Regions from separate parts of the Homo sapiens genome. Here region 2 is linked to region 1. A link means that fine-mapping ties the variant in region 1 to the expression of a gene that starts in the linked region. Tissue or cell type: whole blood. Region 1 holds a variant in brackets; the other region holds the start of a gene. All regions are shown on one strand. Distances are from middle to middle.

Region 1 (5,151 bases):
ACGGTATTTCAGAAGTAAATTCTATGTAAGGTCCATCATGAAGCATATGAAATCACTCCACAATATCCTGCAATACAATTAAACCTCCCTCAGGCACTGGGAGGCCCTTTTAATTATTTCTCATTTGCAGCCCATGGTCTTAGAATTAAGGGCTGAACTCTATAGTGAGTCCCAGGCTGAACCTTGAATTTGTTTACTACTGAAGGTTGGCTAAACTTTTGCATGTTTTTTATAATTTATTTTGCCCCATTTTCTTAGATGAGCCAAACCCTAACCCCCAAAACCAAGGAGTAAAAATGTCATTGAAAATACATTTTCCACTGTTTTTATTGCTTTATGAGCTGCATCCAGTGATATAATCTCTACATTTAAGAAATTTGCTTAACTGTAGAGGCCCATTATCTAATCATTTAATACAAAATCCAAGGAGCAACCATCTGATCAAAACAAATTTACAAAATCAAAATTACTCACCCAACATATGTATTCCTGTCAGATCTCATGGACCTATTGGAGGCAGGTATAACTGAAGCCATTCTCTCTACTATGTGAAAAGTCACCTTAAATTGATGTCAAGAAAGAGAGATATTGTGACTTGTTATTAAATTATAGACCTAGTCATAATAGTTCAGTTCCCAGTCAGAATGATAACCTCTCTTAAAACTTAGGTTTTCCTGTGAAATTGCTAAGAAAATTTTTCCTTTAGCATTTTAAATTTTCCTATCAAATAAAAGATGTCCTCCCTGACATGACTTTTATACCACAGCCCAGCTCTCAGAGCAGCACTTCCTCAAGAAGATAGGCCCCCTTTGAAGGTGTGGCATCCTAGCTCTTTGACCAGGTTGGTTAGCTTGTTAACTATTGGTGAGAACTTTCCCTTACATCTGTCCTTGATCCCAACACAGGTTTGATGTTGCAAACAGGCTTATTTGCTTTGAGACAACTGTATATGGATACGAGTCCTCTTTTGGTTTCTATAACACACCTACCAGGTCTTCTCAAAACTGTGTCCAGTACATACGAGAACTTTCAGTTCTCAAACATTTCAGTTCCCCATCTCCATCCAGCCCCTCGCCAACTTGTTTTCATTCTTTGTCATCACAAGTTAGGGAAGCATCCAAAGTCTGGACCTCAGAATGTCCCTTTATCTGAACTTTGCTCATTCCAGTTCACACAGAAGAACTGATAATTAAACAAAACTTATTTCCCAGGGCCTCTTTCTTTAGTTAAACTGTAGGCCATTGGTAAAATTTATTGAACCAGGGGTTAATCCACATGGAATAATAATACAGCATAGTATTTTCAGAAAACGGAGTCTCTGCCAAGAAAGGCATGAATTCACTACTTTCACTAATGCTTCTCACTTTTCACTTTTGGGACAGAAAAATCTAGAAAACTAGACAACTTCATCCTGATCTTTTTTCTCTTCACTCCCATAGCAATCAGCTGAAGTTCTATGCTGGTGAGAGCTTCAAGAACGTAGTCTCATGGCTTTCAGGCAAATCAGAACCTAAAATGTCTATAAATGCCAAACAGCAGCAAATACAAGACACCTCCTAATATGCTTGGATTTCTTTCCAAGAATGTGCATCACAGTCAAGAATCAAGTGCTCATATCCTAACTGAGTTCTCCATGTTAGAAGATGCTCCTCTTCCTGGTGACAGTCATTCTTGGCAAATTCTTTGAATGCCCCACTGGCCTCCTTTGGTCCATCTTGGTCAGACAGCAAAGTTTACAGAATAGGAAGGAAAAAGAATAGGGGACTCTATATTGGGGAATCCATGTAGCCTAAATCTTGCCACTGTTACCACCAACTAGACGTTTGCAACTGTGCCCAGATAGCAAAAAATTCCTGAGGACACTTATCCTGGAAAAGGTAATGATGACTATGAGGCAAAATAGTCTTTAACATGTGTGTTGCCTTTGTAACTTAGAACAGTAGTTCTTGTTGATAGCTTGTATACATCTGTCTCTTACCTCCTGACTCATCTCAGGCTGGTCTACCTGCTGCTCCTTCCCAGGAACCACTGGCAATTTTGAGACTCAACATACTCACTCACTACTGCTGGCACCAGCACACCTTTATTTGATATTCCATGCCATATCTCTCAATTTTATTTTTAAGGTATAATGAGGAGAACCACCAATTTCAATCTGGCATTTACCTCTGGCTTTGAGAGGTAAAAATGTTAGCTAATTAGATAAGTGTTCAGTAATTAATTACCACAGTGAATTAACTAGGTTGATTAACATGTCTGTTTCCGGTGCAGATTCAGTCAACCAGTGATCTTGATCACTAACAGTGCCAGGTAATGCCATCTAAGATTTATGGACCCCATGTAACAACTCGGTCAGACATTTAGGCAAGTAATTGTCATTTGGATGAAGTTCAGAATAATCTTGTGGAATCTATAAAAGTTGATGAAAGTAGAATACTAGTTAATGCCTTCTGGGCAGTCTTAAATTATTCTCCCCACCTTTCAATCTTCTCAAGACTCGATCCTGCTCTTATGGTAGGTTGTTTCTCAGCAATGCTTTTTGATTGACTGTATTGCAAAAGGCCAGTCACCTGAAGAGCAGGGGAAAAGGTTTCGTTTTTAAAAATTATGCACACAGGAGTGCACAAGGCAAACTCAGACCTGGCCACTGGGTAATTTGCAAACAAAGGCTGTGTGCCAGGCACAGCCCATGACTCAGTCCAGCCTTGTGATCAGGAGGGTCTTGCATCA[G/T]ATCTGCCAAATCCATGCTCCATGGTGTCTTGCCTGAGACAAAACACTTCACTTCCTACCGTCTTCCTTTATGATGCTGGCACTATTACATTCTCAATTCCATTACAGTTTTCTATCTGGCTTAATTTTGTCCCTGAACCTCTAATATTAGAAAAAGAAAGCACAGTCTTGATGTACAACTGGATAGCATTTAGGCCTCCCTGAGACCATGCTTTTGTGCTCTTTCCCTGCCTGCTAGACTAGCCCTGGGACCAGAGTCTCAATTCTTAGATGTCTCTCCATGGGGTATCAGCAAAGGTTGTATTGGTTCACCTGAGGCTGCAGCAGGCACCCCTTCCCAGAAGACACTGCCCCTTACACATGCACACACACACTAGCCTCACAGCCTATGGGAGTAGGGGTGTCAACGCACAGCAAAGTCCTCACATCTCCTCCTTCTTTGGCGGGTCTCAGAGTGGGGATGGGGTAACCAAGAGCCCTTTCCTCCTGCCACATCAGATTCCCTGGCTCTTCCATTCAGCCCATAGCACCAGCAATGGCTTGAGAGAGCTCCAAAAATGTCCTAAGCTATCCATTCTGAGGCTAAGCAGTTTATATTTTCATTTATTCATTCAATAAATATTAACTGAGCATACACCATGCTCCAGGAAGTCTAGGAAGTGCTGAAGATAAAGGCATGAAAAAGACAGTTCTTGCTTCTTTTCTTCCACAAAAATATTGACATTCCATGAATAAAGAAAACGCAAGTTACCACACTCCTCATACTAACCTTCTGTATGTTAAAACACATATACTAAGTGTAAATTCAGCATTCTCTCCTTCGTGACAAATAACTAAAACTAATTAAAGATCTTTTGATCTTTCCTTGAGTGTTTATTTTCCAATACATAGGTTATAGGTGCCTCAAAACCTTTGTATAAAAGGGGAGCTATTAAGAGTGTACAATTTTTTATGGTATAGATGTGTTATAGTTTAACATTATTACATATACGTGCAAAGAAAATGTACAGTATTTTCTATTAGCTATCCAGTCTTTCTCAGTATACGCACCCTCCTGGAAGATAGAGCAGAGGACAGTGTTTTTAAACTTGCCAATTAACAGCATCTCTGTCTTTGGTTTAAATAGTCTCATTTAGATGATTTATTTTCTTTTAGATACGCGTTCATCCAATTTCTTCCTTGTGCCCACTGCTCCCATCTGAGGTGACACGTACAAAATGGAATGGTGGGGATGAGCAAGGAGCAAGAGAAGGGCTCCTGGATCCATGTGCTCATTTCCTTGTATTATCCCTTGGCTCTATGTGATGATGCAGCTCAGGCATTGTCCGCTGTTTTCTCATAAGGGACCTGTGGCTACTTAGGTGTAGTCTATGGGTCCTTGAATGCGCTCACTGAGATGCAGCTGGCCCCATCTGGCCCTAAGGGAGCATTATGCTGGCCCTCCCCCTCACCATCTTGGATGCAGGCCTAAGCTGAATATGGAAATTCTCCTAGAGAATCACAACCTTTCTTAGGCTGCCTCGAAGGATGCAGGCCTCTGGCTGCAGTGTTCTCAGGCTGGCCTATGCCTAGTTGGATAGGGATAGCACCCTCCTCCTTTATTTTCACCCCCAAGGGTGGGTGGTCACCGCAGACCTTGGCCTGCCTCTTGCACCATTTCTCCTGCCCTCTTACTCTCATAATTAAAAGAGGAGACCCTCTTTGTACTTTTTCTCTCTGTCTTATGTGAATTTCCCTTATATCCTATCCTGAGTTCTCTCTGGTTTCTAGCAATCTCCGTGTTCAAGTCCAGACCTAGGTTTTTTTGTGTTAATGACAGTATAAACATATCTAAAATCTTTATTTTTCCTCACATTGCCTTATTAGGGACTCATAATTGCTATTGAAAGAATTCTAATTTCCTACTCTAACTCCCATTCCCCAGCAGATAGACGGGAGTGTGCACTATGAAAAAGGCCATGTATACAGAAAAGAAAAAAAGAGATTAGTATTAGGTTTCAAAGTACTATATTATAATTATAAGCAAGAATGATATCCCTAGGACAAATGCTACAACCCTACGGTGTTTGTTTTGCTCTTTTTTGGAGGGTGTTTCCCTCCACAATTCTGTCAAAATGCACTGCTGTTCTAGGCAGGGCCAGGCAGAGGGGTGGCAGCTGAATGTTTGCACAGATACCTTCCCCCGAGGGTTGGTGTAGTGGAGGCTGACCCATGCTGAGGCCCTGGGGAGGATTGCAGCATCCCCTAATCCTTGCAAAGGACTGCAAGCTCCTGTTTCCAGTCTCAGGAGATGTGGTTATGTTGTAAAAGTTTTAATAATTGTGTATGAGATTTAGAAATACAAAACAATGACATATTTTCCAGGACCCACAAGGCATTGACATCTGGAATCTTTATAAAGTTGAAATTTGCCTGAGGAAA
Region 2 (5,151 bases), 360 kb before region 1:
ACCTTTACCTGAAGCAGGCAAAACTATCTGCACAGCCAATCGTGTGTGTGTGTGTCGTGTGTGTGTGTGTGTGTGTGTGATCCATACATCTGAACAGGGTTTTCAATTTCTAATGCGGCAGGGAAACTAAATTTGCTTTTACTTCCCAATCTTGACATCAAGTCAAAAAAGCACGGGTTAAGCATGGGTTAAACACTGCTGTAATATGATACTGTTACATAATAAAAGTTTCCTGTTGGCATTTACAAACACCTCCCAATATCCTCCACAGTGTTACTGGACACAAATTAAACCTCTAAATTAGAAGATTCACTGATTATGCACATAGCTGAAAAACAACGTAGCAACCAAAACATAAACGTTTCTGAGTGCAAAATATTTTTTTCTATTTTTTTTCCTTTCTGTTGAGTCCTTAACTAAAGGCTCCTATTTAATAGTTTTCAATGTCCATGATCTACACAAAGTAGGTGTTGGAAGAAAGCTGATTGGTCAGACAACTGACTTATTATTTTACTGAATCTGACATAAAATAACCAGGTGCAAAGAGGTTTATCATAAATGCAACCTGCAAAGCAAATTGTGTCAAATAAAAACACACATATGATGCTTTTCAACACCCAGAAACACTTATTTCAGACATTAGTTGTTCTCGTTTTCATGTTGCCATTTTCCATAACTGTTTCACAGGCACCAAAACGAAGATACTCCTACAGCAATATACTGCATTCAAGAAGAGAAGCATTCTTCTAGTTTCTCTTTAAAAATAAAAAGAATCTAAGCTCAATTCTAGCGAACCATTTTCTGTCAAAATTTTGCTCTCCCGTATTAAGGAAAACAAAATTTGACCAAAAATGCATACTAGCCATCATTGATTTTACACGTAAATAATTACCGTTCTTTAAAACTTGTAGGGCAGCATTTATTTTTTTTTTTCAGTCAAACTCAGTAACAAAGAGAAAAAACTGAGACCTCCACTAATAAATTACATCTTGAAATATACATGATTGTGGTGTCCCCGTGTTACTTTCAATGGTAACTGACACGTCCCGAATTTAACTGTACCAGACAGTTCTATCTGTCCCATCGCTGACCGAACAGTGCTTCTCTGTTTCTATTCATTATGTATTATACGAGGTCTAAACACAGCCCAGTATGACGAGGGAAAAAAATTACACTTCTTAGGATACCAAAGTGATGCATTCAAGATCTCTCTCGCAGTACATGCCCGTGAGCACTAACAGGCATTTTTTGATAGAGCTAAAATATGTTGGCTGCAAGCTCATTACTCTAACAACCTTCAGGCCCCCTGTTTCTGCTGGTTTTCAGAAAACCCTAGTGAAAACCAGGCACTATCCAAACCTTGCACACCAAACTTGCCAACAGCCCTGTGCAATGATCAATAACCTTGGCTACACAGTCATCGGCCCCAAATTCACGGTCCTGAAGACCAATGCAGCAAAAACCCAGACGAAAGGCTAGCTGGAGCCCCAAAGAATTACCGCGCTTCCCCTCTGCCGCATGGAGGGAAGCTATGGGAGGAGAGGAGTGGAATGAGGCTCACCAGCTCCGAAGATGCTCCGGTGACCTCTGGCTGCGCGGCGAGAGCTGGGGAGGGAAGGCGCTAGGGCAGCCGCGGCGGGCTGTGTGGACTCTGCCCCTGGTGCATTCCTCGCATTCCTGCACAATCTGTCGCCAGCCCAGGAGCCGGCAGCGCGCGTCCCCCGCTGTACACACACACCTGACTACCGCTGCGCCCCGAGCGGCCACGGCCGCCGCGGCACCTCCACTGCCCGCGCTCGCGGTGTGTCGCACTCAGCCAACACGCAGCCAAATCCCGGCCCCGCCGCTCGCTCTCCGGGTAGCGGTCCAGGGGAGAGGGCCGGCAGCCTCGGCAGCGGGCGGGGATACCAGATCCGCCAGGGAGGTGCCGCAGCTCCGCTTCAACTCCTGGCAGGGAGAGGAGGAAGCGGCGGCGCAGGAGGGCAGCGGCGAGGCTCGGCGCTGGGGAGCCGGGAGGGGTGGAGCGTGAGGATCCGCGGCCGGTAGAGAGGGGCGCACTAGGCAGAGGGGTGGGCAGGACCGGCAAGGAGTACAGGACTTCGGGGACAAACGCAAGACCGCGCGGGCAGCAGGGGCGTGGGAAGACGGGGAGGGGACCAAGGTGCAGGATCTGGGGCTAGAAGGACAGACAGCCGGCCCCGAGTGCTGAGGAGGGCGGGCGCCCAGTGGTGTCGAGGGCGACTTGGGGCGCGCGGCGGCAGGCAGCGGGGAAGCCGCCGCGAGGGCGTCCAGCAGGGCTCAGCGCGGCGCTCAAGTTCGGGGCTGGGAGCTCTGAATCCGAACAGCCCAGCGTGGGCAGAGGTCGTGCGCTGCGCGTACGGGAGACCGGGGAGAGGAATCGCCGGGAAAAGCAAATGGAGGGTGAAACTTGTGCGCCTGCCGGGGGGAGGGGAGCAGCAGGCGAGTGCGGGCAGGAACACGAGGCGGGGCAGGAAAGCCGCGGCGGCCGCGAGGCGCTGGGGACGCGGCAGCGGGAGGGAGGCCCCCGGCCCCCGGCGCGCAGGTCCTGGCCCTGGCGCGTGTTCGGGGCGAGGGCCGAGGGTCTCGTGGGCAGGAGTCTCCGCGCCCTCCCGCGAGCCCACACACTTACTTTCCAGCTTAGGCAGCGGCCGTCGTCGCTCCAGGGATCAGGGACATCGGCGCCGAGGGGTCGCCGCTGCGGCACCCGAAAAAATTAAAAAAGTGCCGCGGCGGCGCGGCTGCCCGCCCCTCCCTCCCCCACCGGCCCCCGCCCCCGGAGCGGCTCTCCCACCACCCCCGGCGGCGGCGGTGGCCAACTTGCCCCTCTACCCCTTGCCCATGGTGCCGCCTCCGCGGCCGGCGTCGACGCGGACTCAGCCCCGGAGCCCCCTCTACTGCCCAGAGGCCGCCGCCGCCGCCCGCCCCGCTGCCAGCCCTCCCGCCCGGCCAGCCCCGGGCTCCCGGGAACGTCAGCACGCCGCCGTCCCCGGGCCAGCTCCCGCCACCCCATTGGCGGGAAGGAGAGGGCTGGCCCTCCCCATTGGCCCGGCCCTCATATTGAACAGGCCAATGGGAGCTGCGGTTTCAGGTCGCCATAGAGACCGATGCTGTTCAGCGCGAGAGGGCCTGGAGAGGGTGGGTGTGAGAGAGAAGGTGTCTCAGGTCTCGGGCGCGGGAGGGGGTGGCGGAGAGGACAGGGAGATTCCCCAGCGCTGGCTCTGAAATCTGGGGCAGGCTTTCCTTGCCTTACTGCCAATCCCAACTGTGCCTGGTAGGGTTTGTCCCTGGCGTCAAAGGTAGGAACAGCTGAGCCCTTAGATGTACCCCTGACGGCGAGAGCCCAGGAGTGGGCGTTTCACTTTTCCTGCGTTTGGGGAGTCCCTGAGGCTATGCCCTTTGACCTTTGACATGTGTGCAGCTTCTGCTTCTCCAGGTGAGTTTGCACCCCATCCCTTCCATCGCTGCTTCCTCCTGACGTCACTGAGCCACCTAAATCCTACTTATGTTTGTTCTCTGCAGCCACTCCCCCTTCCCTGGGGTGGATCTTTCCTCAACGTTTTGGGTCCTCAAACTCATAACTCTTCTGAAAGACTCAAAGAGGATTTCCTTTGAGGATATTTTGGTAAGGGAACGAGGTGGCGGATTGTATGATAGATGCCAAAGCGTCAACACATGAGCTAGCCTGTTCCCTGATTCTCAAAGCAAACCTCTAATCTCCCTGTGGGCAGATATTTATTAAACACATCTGTGTGTACATCCCGCACTATGAGCTTGACAGGTGCATGTTCTTTCACTTGAGAGGTTACAGGCTTGTTAAAGATAGAGGAAACAGAAACAATCCTTCACACCTTGTGATGATTTCACAAAAGAGTAAGGGAAATGGATTACAGTTGATGGATTTTGTTTTCTATTTTCCAGTATCTCTTTAAATTTGATATGGAAATAACCTGAGGCATGAAATCAGTACACGCAAAAATCTTGAGCTTTAATAATGTCTTCTACTTTCATTTAAAATCATTTTGTGGTGGTTTATCAATACTAATTGTTTTTTGTCAATAAATTTTATGTTTAGATATCACCTTCTTAAAGTGAGATTTCATGAACATATTAGGCTTTAAAAGATGATATTGCTCTAGCCTATAGCCACTGATATTCTTACATTCTTTTGGCGATTTTACTTTTTTTAGACTAATCTCTTTAGTAAGGAGACTATGTTACTACCCCTCAAATTGGAGGGACCATATTGTGTGAAAAAGCTGATAGGATTTTGGAAATTACAAATATTTTGTTGGGAGAAACAGGTTAATGTGTGTGCAAGCTGCATATGTCTAAGTATTGTTCTGAATTTTAAGTTGGGTGATATGCTTTGCTACTGGTTTTTATCTTACTATAATTGAAGATTACAAAGATGTAACCTAAGAAATGTTAATATGGTGCCTTGATTGGAAAAAAAAAAACCTCTCCACATTTGTAGTAAAATGTGAACTCAGTTGACAGTCCTACACAGGGTAGGACTGTGGAACAAAACAGGTGAACGTGTGTATGTTCCCCCTAAATATTTTCAGAATTGAGAAGGGATCAGCAGGGGCCAGGAAGTGCTGTGCCATGGCTGGCCATCATGGAAATAGGCTGTTTTTTACTTCTTCCGGCTTTTTAATGTGTGTTTTTGTTTATAGAACAGAAAAAGTAAACCACAAATTGTTATATGAGACACATGTTTAATGAAAAGATACCAATGATTTTGCTTCTTTTAAATTTCAATAACATCAAATGAATGAAAGTTGTGTCTAATGGAAAGAAAAAATGGGTCTTTTCTCTTGCCTTAGGCTAGCATAGAAAGAAGAAAATAAAAGATTATTACTCCAATAATCTTTTTGTGTGGGTGTTTTTCTCAGATGACTATTTTGATATTGTAGATTTCGTGTTTGTCATAATTAAAATGTTACTGAAATCCACCATGAATAATGTCCCCTGAAATAAGTTGCCACTCAACATTAATTTTTTTGTTTATTTTTGTATTTAGTTGAAAGGTTTCTTTTGAACTTGCTCCTGCGCTACTAAGCATTGCTAGACAAGGTTAAAGAATCACTTCATTCCACTAAAAGTTCATGCTATTCAGACTTGGCTGTG

Evidence for each region. PIP is the estimated chance that this variant, and not a neighbour inherited with it, causes the effect.
Region 2: it holds the start of PKP4, and the variant in region 1 is fine-mapped to the expression of PKP4 in whole blood (INTERVAL, PIP above 0.99).

Annotation. Positions count from the first base shown.
Region 1 is chr2:158,097,449-158,102,599 of GRCh38, reverse strand. UPP2 (uridine phosphorylase 2) reads right to left here and starts at 724. Exons shown (of 7, transcript NM_173355.4): 1 at 475-724. The coding sequence starts at 536. The variant G/T (reference allele first, on the strand shown) is at 2,731.
Region 2 is chr2:158,454,718-158,459,868 of GRCh38, reverse strand. It overlaps PKP4 (plakophilin 4), which reads right to left and starts at 2,917. Exons shown (of 22, transcript NM_003628.6): 1 at 2,651-2,917. It overlaps CCDC148 (coiled-coil domain containing 148), which reads left to right and starts at 3,116. Exons shown (of 14, transcript NM_138803.4): 1 at 3,116-3,454. The coding sequence starts at 3,430. It overlaps LOC124907900, which reads left to right and starts at 1,735. Exons shown (of 1, transcript XM_047446754.1): 1 at 1,735-2,738. The coding sequence starts at 2,415. The coding sequence ends at 2,738. RefSeq lists an enhancer at 1,558-1,637 and silencers at 1,918-2,137, 2,168-2,227, 2,248-2,297, 2,548-2,597, 2,818-3,187 and 1 more.